2 separate regions of the Homo sapiens genome follow, and region 2 is reported to be linked to region 1. Evidence: microRNA targets listed by miRTarBase, many of them from high-throughput screens and not tested one by one. Region 1 holds a microRNA gene; the other region holds the end of a gene's coding sequence.

Region 1 (4,150 bases):
GGAGAAGAGGAGGGAGAGTACAGAAGCCCGAAGCCTTCTACATCACAGTTTGGCTTAGACATGGTTCAATCCTAAACCGTTCTCATAAATATGAGAGGTAAACAGAAGCCAATAAGTCCTCCCGAAAACTACATCTGAAGCTAATCCACTCCGAGATTTAAAAATACCCAGGAACCACTATCTCTGTGAGATTTCATTTTATTTCAAGGATCCTGTAGCTCTTTGAATCCAAACTCATGTTTGGAGTCTGAGGGTTTCTTAGCCCTCGTCTGGTCACCCTGCTCATTTGCAGAGGAAAATACTGGGCCCAGTGTGGGGACAGAATGGCCAGAGGTCCCAAAGCAGGGCTGGAGATCACACCTGGGCCTGGCCAAGCCCCTCACCTGCCAGGTTTGCCCCTCTCTACCTGTCCACTGCCTAAGTGCTCCGTGCATAGCAGGTACTCGGTATGTTTGTGTCAAATGAATAAAAACAACAGATCAAGTGATCTGAGGACTTAACCAAAGATATTCTACTAAAGGGTATCAGACCAAATGACTTACTAATAGCAAATGAACAAAGAAGAGGAGTTAGCATGTTCTCTCCTGAAAAATTCTTCTCAAAGTGCCAATGCTTCCTCAAAGTGGTTTAATTACCTTAGCCAAAGTAGTTAAATCAAAAAGAAAAATTAATATGATATGCTGTCGTGGTGCTGTGATGTGCCTTAAATGAACTCTCCAAGACCCAGTAAACATGAGCCTTCATTACTGTCTCTCTCTATTACTTACCACCAGCCAGGAGGTAGGTCGTATCACACCCATTTTACAGACAAGGAAGCTGAGGCTCAAAGAAGTTAAGGACTGACCCAGCGACATAGCTAGTGAATGTCAGAGTTGGGATTCAAACCCACAAACCAGCATGCTTTCCCCCACTCCTGGGAAATGGGACATGTCACAGCTTACAGATGTTTGGGACTGATAGAGACCAAGCAAATAGGCAGTCCCAAATGTTGACCCGATATCCTCCCACCAATCAGGCCTTCAGGAGCTTTACAAAACATTCAGCACGCTTGTATTCACAACTGACTTTTCAGGAGCCTCGAAACAGTGAGGTGAAAATAGGGTTCAGCCTAACCTGTCATTCATGCCATTATCAAACTTAAGTTTTCCAACTTCCCATTCCTTCCCTCACCCAGTCCCTCCCACAGGGACAATTCAGAGCCATTAAAACCATTCCCAAATCTCTCTCTCCTTACTGGAGACCCTATAAGCAAATTCACTGAAGAATACTGAGGGATTTGGGGTTGATTTGATTTGAGAATAATCTGAACCTATATCATAGCCATTCCCGTGTTGGCCTCTCCTACTCCAGCTCCTCAAAGCAAGAGCCCCTCCCGACGCCCAGCCTGTAGAAGGTGGTTGTAGAACTAAAGTGAATTAAACTTGGCATATGAAGGTCAAGGGAGTAAATCTAAGAATTACGTGAATGTGCTTGGTATAGCTTGGGAAAAGATGCAGCTTCATCCAAGAGCCGTGAGATTTACTGACATGGAAGCCTTCCAGTGGGGACTCTAATACTCAGCTTTGAAGAATATAGTGTATACATTAAAATATTTACCGGCCAGGAGAAGAACTGGGTCACCAAATGGAGTCCCCCAAACCAATGGCCCCAGCAGCCAACCCATTCCCTCTTTTAGAGAATTCTGGCCCATCTGCAGAAACATGCCCAGACAGCATGCCTACTTCCGAAAGTATAAGATCCCTGTCCAAGTACAAATCAGTTGTCAACCTGACAGGTTAGTGCACCATCAGGCACATCTAAGACAAAAAGGGCCCTTTAGAGACCACCTAGTCCAATGACTTTCACAGAAGGAAAGAGAATGAATCTACGTGGTTAGGGAAAGTATCCTCAAAACTGATTCTGACTGAGCAAGAGAAATGGCAGGACGCAAAGTGCTATAATCTGGATGTTTGTGTCCCCACTAAAATTCATGTTAAAATATTAACCCCCAAGATAATCATTTTAGAGGGTGGGGACTTTGGAAGGTGATTTGGTCATGGGGGTAGAGCCCTCTTAAATGGAATTAGTGCCCTTATAAAAGACGTCCCAAAAAAGACCACTTACCCCCTCCACCATGTGAGGACATAGCAAGAAGGGACTGTCTATGAACCAGAAAGCAGGGCCTCACCAGACACCAAATCTGCCAATGCTTTGGTCTTGGACTTCCCAGCCTCCAGAACTGTGAGGAATAAATTTCTGTTGTGTATAAGCCACCCAGTTTATGGTATTTTGTTGTAGCACCCTGAACAGATTAAGACACAAACCTCAAACATAATCCTCCTGGCCAGTGGGGTATGCTGCCCACCCACTGAGAGCATGAGAGACGGGAAGGGAGAAGAGAGAAAGGGAGAGTAAGGGAGAGAAGGGGAAGGGAGGAGAGGAGATGGGAGGGGAGAGGAGGGGAGAAGAGGGGAGGGGAGGGGAGGAGGTGCCAGGTATTAAAAGATTAAACCACCTCATCCCTAACCCCATTTTGCAGGTAAAGAAATGGACGTGCAGGATAGAAGGTGATCTGTCCAAGGACACACTGCTGGCTATAGGCCGAGTTGCAGCTAAAATGAAGATCTCCTGATTCCTGGCCTCATCCCTTTCTCTTTTTGCATGTGATTTACATACAAATATATATAGAAAACCGAGACAAGTTTTATTTTAAAAGTACTATCCTTACTATGTGTGACAAACTAACATTTTCTATTGTTCTTTTATGAACTACTAGTCACAACTCATTAAATCCATTTTACAACACACCCGTGGGTCATGGTGCATGCTTTGAAAACGTCTGACTCAGATATCTGGAAAGAGTCAAGTCAAGGCCAGAAGTCCCACAGGTGTGCTTTCCAGCCCTGCTGTGGGACCTCTGGCCTTGACTTGACTCTTCCTTTAAGTTCAATTTGAGGGTGCTTATGAATGGAATATGTTAAACATTGATAAAGAGAACTCATGGCTTCCACAGCTAAAATTTCCCTCCCACAATGTTCACCATCACAGTGGATGCCACCATCATGCCCCTAGCTGTGACCAAACAGTGAGGAATTTTCTTAAATTCCCTTTTCTGTCTGCTATGCCCCACCCATCAGCATGTCTCTGTCCTCACCGCCCTGGTACAAGCCATCATCGCCTTCCCCTTGGGCTATGACAAAAACCTCTTAACTGGTATCCCTGCTGCCACCCTGGCCTCCCTACTCTATTCTCTACCAGCGGCCAGAATAATCTTCTAGAAACGTAAATCAGATCATAACAGCCTTCCTGCTCCAAAGACCTGCCACCATCTTAGAACAAAATCCAAAGTCTTTCCACGGCCCAGAGGCCCCCCATGATATAGCCCCGCCTGCCTCTGCCCCTCCTCCACCATACTGGTCATCTTGCTCTTTCTCCAAAAAACCAAGCATGAGCCTCAGGGCCTTTGCACTCACTGCTCTGTCAGCCTGGAGTCCCTCTCCCAACACCAACAACTGTTCTCTTCTTTACTCTGCCCTCTGACCGCATCATCAGGTCCCCAGAGAGAGCTTCCCTGGACACACTGTCTCCCATGGCCTCACTTCCTCTCTCTCCTGTTCCTCCCATTCTTTGCTATATTCTTTTTTTTTTTTAAGACAGGGTCTCGTTCTCTCACCCAGGCTGGAGTAAAGTGGTGCGATATTGGCTCACTGCAACCCCCACCTCCCATGTTCGAGCAATTCTTGTGCCTCAGCCTCCCAAGTAGCTGGGATTACAGGCGTGTGCCACCATGTCCAGCTAATTTTTGGCATTTTTAAGTACACAGGGTTTCACCATGTTGGCCAGGCTGGTCTTGAACTCCTGGCTTCAAGTGATCTGCCCGCCTCAGTCTCCCAAAGTGCTGGGATTACAGGCATGAGCCACTGCGCCCCGCCTGCCATATGCTTCTTCAAGGCATTGATTCTCTCCTGTCTTTTTATCTTAAATGCTTTATTGGCTGTTGTCTGTTGCCACCACGAGACCCTAAGTTTCATGAGCAAAAGGACTTGGACTGTCTTGTCTATCACAATATCCTCGGTTCCTAAAAGGGGCCTAAATTCAGGGCTGAATGAATAAATGAATGAATGGAAGTGCCTTTCCCAAAAGACAGGAAACTAAACCGTTTTGAAATACA
Region 2 (4,000 bases), not on the chromosome of region 1:
CCCAGGGCTGAGGCTGATTGCACCACTTCCTTCCCTGCAGCTCCTAGAGATATGTGCCCCCCAAGTCCCACTTTCTCTGCTGCTCACTCACTCTTGTCTTGGTAGAGGCCTGCCCAGCACCTCCCTCAGGGCTAGGGTCTTTCCCTTCTGTGTACAGAAGACAAATGCTGGCTTTTCCAGGAGGCATGGGGAAGGGAGGGCTGAGAGCTTTGCTGGGGGAAGATGAGGGAAGTGGCAGCTGCGGTGAGGAGTACTGGCCCCTTCCCAGACACCACCTGTCCCCCCCTGCAGGAGACTACAACGAGGGGGGTGTGAGCAGCACTGGCGGGGATGGGGGGATTGGAGAGCTGCTCCCCCGGACCTCTAAAGTTCTGCTCCTAGCTTAGGTCCCAGGTCTTTGGGGACTCCTGAGTTTCCCCCACTCTAGAGAAGTGGGATGGGGACTGGGCTGAGACATCCAGAGCAGGGATCTTTCATCCCATTGTGGGCTCGTTTGCTCTCTGCTAGGGAGGCTGGAGGTTTTCTGAGGACAGATTGGCCATAGTCACCCTGGCTTCACTCCAAGAGGGGTTAACCCATGTGTGCGAGACAGAACTCGCAATAAAACTCAGGGTTCGGCCCCTGCTGGTGAGAGCCCAAGGGCAAGGTTGGGGGGCCTGTGGGGGGGTGGGGGAGGGCAGGTGGGAGGCTGTCCTCTGTGAGCTCCCCAGGATCATTTCCCAATAGTGCCAGAATTTGCATACTTACTGGTTTCCTCATCAGCTTCTGGCTCCTGGAACCAGGAAAACAAGAGGAGGAAAGAGCAACTGGGGCAGCTCCCCAGAATTTGATCTTTTCCAGCATGCAGGAGTCACATTCCATCCCTGTCCCCCTCTCAGAGGGAAGCTGCCTCTGAAGAGGCAGGAAGCTGAGGCTCTGAGAGGGAAGTGGGTTGCCCAGGGCTGCATCGCTAGTGATGGGGGCTTGAATCCAGGACCCCTCCCTCTCCTCCTTTCACAGGAACTGAGTTATTCTCTCAAATCTAGAAAGAGGCAAGGACCATTGTGTCCCTTTTACAGGTGGGGAGACTGAGGCCCTGTGAGCAAATACCACCTACCTAAGCTGCTTGAATGGGCAGTGGAGCAGGAGGTGATGGGGAGAACTTTGGAGTTAAAGCCCAATTCGTGGGAAAGAAACACAGCTGGGGCACTGGGCCTGGTAGCCTCGGAGTCACTCTGCCTGGCAGACTGAGAAAGAGGCCTGAAGGGGCATCTAAGCCTGCCTGGAAAGCACAGGATGCAAGCTCAGGCCAGCGGGGCATGGAACTGACCAGTCCTCCCTAGATCCCAGCCCCTCAGGCACCTGCCACATGAGCTCTGCCACCCTTGCCGGGGCTTATCAGTGAACCAGCAGGGCCAGACTTGGCCTCCAGACACGGCACAGCCAGTCAGGACCTGCTGCCCACTGCCCATCCCTCCCCACACACAGCAGAAGCAGCAAATGGCTTAGAGTTCAGCTCTGGTCAAGAAGCAAGTAAGCAAGTATGAACTCCCAAGGCTGTGGCCAGCTGGCAGCTGGGATGGGAAGAGGGGTGAGAACATTCCCTATTTTTTCCAGGCAGCCTCAAGGCTCCACTGTGGTGTGCAGAGACAGCGGGGGCTTGGCAGGTGGGGTTGCTGGGCATCTGCTGCTGACCAGGTGGGTAGGGTGGTCCTTTCAGCTGCCATGCTGGAGGGATTCCTTTTTTTTTTTTTTGAGACAGGGTCTCACTTTGTCACCCAGGCTGGAGCACAATGGTGCAATCATGGCTCACTGCAGTCTCCACCTCCTGAGGTTCAGGTGATCCTCCTACCGTAGCCCAAGTAGCTGGGACTACAGGTACAGGTGTATGCCACCACACCCAGCCAATTTTGTATTTTTTGTAGAGATAGGCTTTCCCTATGTTGGCCAGGCTGGTCTCGAACTCCTGAGCTCAAGCAATCTGCCCACCTTGGCCTTCCAAGTGTTGGGATTACAGGCGTGAGCCAGCATGCCTGGCCTGGAAGGATTCCTATGTGGATGTTGAAACCTAGGAGAGTTGTGAGGTGTGGGGCTGAGGGTACCTTCACCTCCCCCATCCCTGCAGGGCCCTGAGTTGCTGCAAACTAGTGTCCAGGCCCACCCCTCCTGCCCCCCTGGTTTGGGGACCAGAACCAGGACTCAAGGCCCTGCCCCAGTCTGTCCTTCCTCTGCGGGACCTTGGGCAAGTCATTCAGCATTGCCAAGTGGCTGATAATGAACTGGACAGTCTGGTATTTTAGCTTCCTGTCCCACAAAAACAAACAGAAGCCCAAGTATATTGTAAGTAAGATTTCTTTTTGCAGATAAAACTGGACTCCAAATCCTTTTACACTTTTGCTGCCTAACTGCCCCCTCCAGCCCCCTGCCCGCTCGTGCGTCCATGGGCACCTCCTAACAAGGCCCAGACCAAGGCCTCGGGAAAGATGCCCCATCCCCAAGGAGCTATGCATTCCTGGTGAATGTTTGTTAGAAATCTTCCTTCCAGAGAAGGGTCAGGGAGCTGGTGTGGAGGGGCTTCCTCCTGGGGTGAAGGAGGTCGGGGTGCATACCTGCTGGCCTTTCCTCACCCAGAGGCCAGCCCAAAGCCCTGAGCATAACAAAGACAATCACCTCTTGAAAGGGCTCACAATGATTGTACTTTATTGATGTGTTACAGGAGGTAAGGACTTTCTGCTTAAAATATTTAAAATTTACATGTGCACACAAACAAACACAGGTTCCCCCACCCATGGGGAAGGGCGAGATGACTCTGAATAAAGGATGGAGGAGAAGAAGAGGGTGTAGACGGAGGGCCCTTGACCCCTACAGGGGCAGCAGGATAAGGAATAGAGTGGGGCAGAAGGTGGGTTATTAAGAAGCATCTTGCTTACTGACATGAAGCCACGTGCCCAGCGAGAGCACAGATGAGGCCTCATTGGCGTAGAGGAGGCCCTTGGAGGGCAGGCACACGGTGCCCAACTAGCCAGCCAAGGCCAACGTCCCAGGGGTAGGGCGGAAGTGGGGTGGCGTGCACAGGGCACCCAGCCCAGGCCTCTGCTGCCCCCACCTCCCTCCCCACCCTCTGAGAGAAAAGACGGTTTGGGCCTCAGCCACGGACCGACGCCGTTACCGGCAGCGTCTCCTTAAACTACAGAGATACAATGTGTATCAACAGGGTGATCGCTTCTGACCCACTGAGGCAGACAGCTAGAGGTGCTGCATGGGCCAGAACCAATCCTACAGTATCTTTGGTTTGTGGGTTTCCTTCCCGACTTGAATCCTCCCTCTGTCCAGCCTCTGGGGTGGGCCTCAGGGCTGGGAATGGGCTGCTCAATGGCCCAAAGCCCAGCCTGACGGCCCTTGGAGGCTGGGGGTGCTGCCCTTGCCAGCCACAGGCAGCTTACTCACTGGGGTGCTGGGACTTGTAGGAGAGGATCTCGGCAGCCAGCTGCTGGGGGTCCAGGAGCTGTGGGAAGCGCCCCATCACAGCCTCCACCAGGTGCGGGGGAAACACACCACACAGCTTAGTATACACGCTGGCCTGCTCCTTGGCCAGGCTGCCTGCCCTGCCCCACGGGCTCCTGCCAGCCCCTGGGCTCTGCACTGGGGGCTCCTGAAGGACTGATGTGGGTGGGGGCAGTGGGTATGGTTCAGACCAGTACTCTCGAGGTGGAAAGGCAGGGGGCGCGGGTGGGTAGTCGGCAGGGACACTGAAGTGGCCAGCACCCATGGCCCGGCCAAAGGCAGAGAAGGCTGCGGTGGCTGGGAGCTCAGATCCATAGGGACTGTAGCCCGTGTAAGGGGCTCGGGGTGGGCCCGGCTCACCAGGGCCTCCTCCTCGAACCCCCCAAAGTTCCGACATCTGGCTCTCCAGGGAGCCAATGCCCGAGTCCAGGCAATCCTGGGAGACGTACGGGAGTGAGTCCAGCGTCTGTGGGAGCCAGTCTGTGGGCCCAAAGCTGCTGCCACTGCCCCCGCTAGG

What was found. The annotated mature microRNA hsa-miR-3922-5p reads UCAAGGCCAGAGGUCCCACAGCA and lies in region 1 at 2,884-2,906, opposite strand. An mRNA with a match to its seed (bases 2 to 7 or 8) in the 3' UTR can be bound and repressed. Matches are read on the target gene's strand: a 7mer-m8 pairs with bases 2 to 8, a 7mer-A1 pairs with bases 2 to 7 and ends in A, and an 8mer does both.
Region 2: miRTarBase lists ZC3H12A as a target of hsa-miR-3922-5p. Seed matches in the 3' UTR shown: 7mer-m8 at 3,007-3,013.

What each region holds. Positions count from the first base shown.
Region 1 is chr12:104,590,401-104,594,550 of GRCh38, reverse strand. MIR3922 (microRNA 3922) reads right to left here and starts at 2,918; the gene lies at 2,835-2,918. All of the region lies in intron 1 of CHST11 (carbohydrate sulfotransferase 11), which reads right to left.
Region 2 is chr1:37,483,030-37,487,029 of GRCh38, reverse strand. ZC3H12A (zinc finger CCCH-type containing 12A) reads right to left here. Exons shown (of 6, transcript NM_025079.3): 6 at 2,653-4,000. The coding sequence ends at 3,419. Among named protein-coding and RNA genes, the nearest start is that of MIR6732, 4.8 kb to the right of the region's middle. RefSeq lists an enhancer at 2,563-2,692.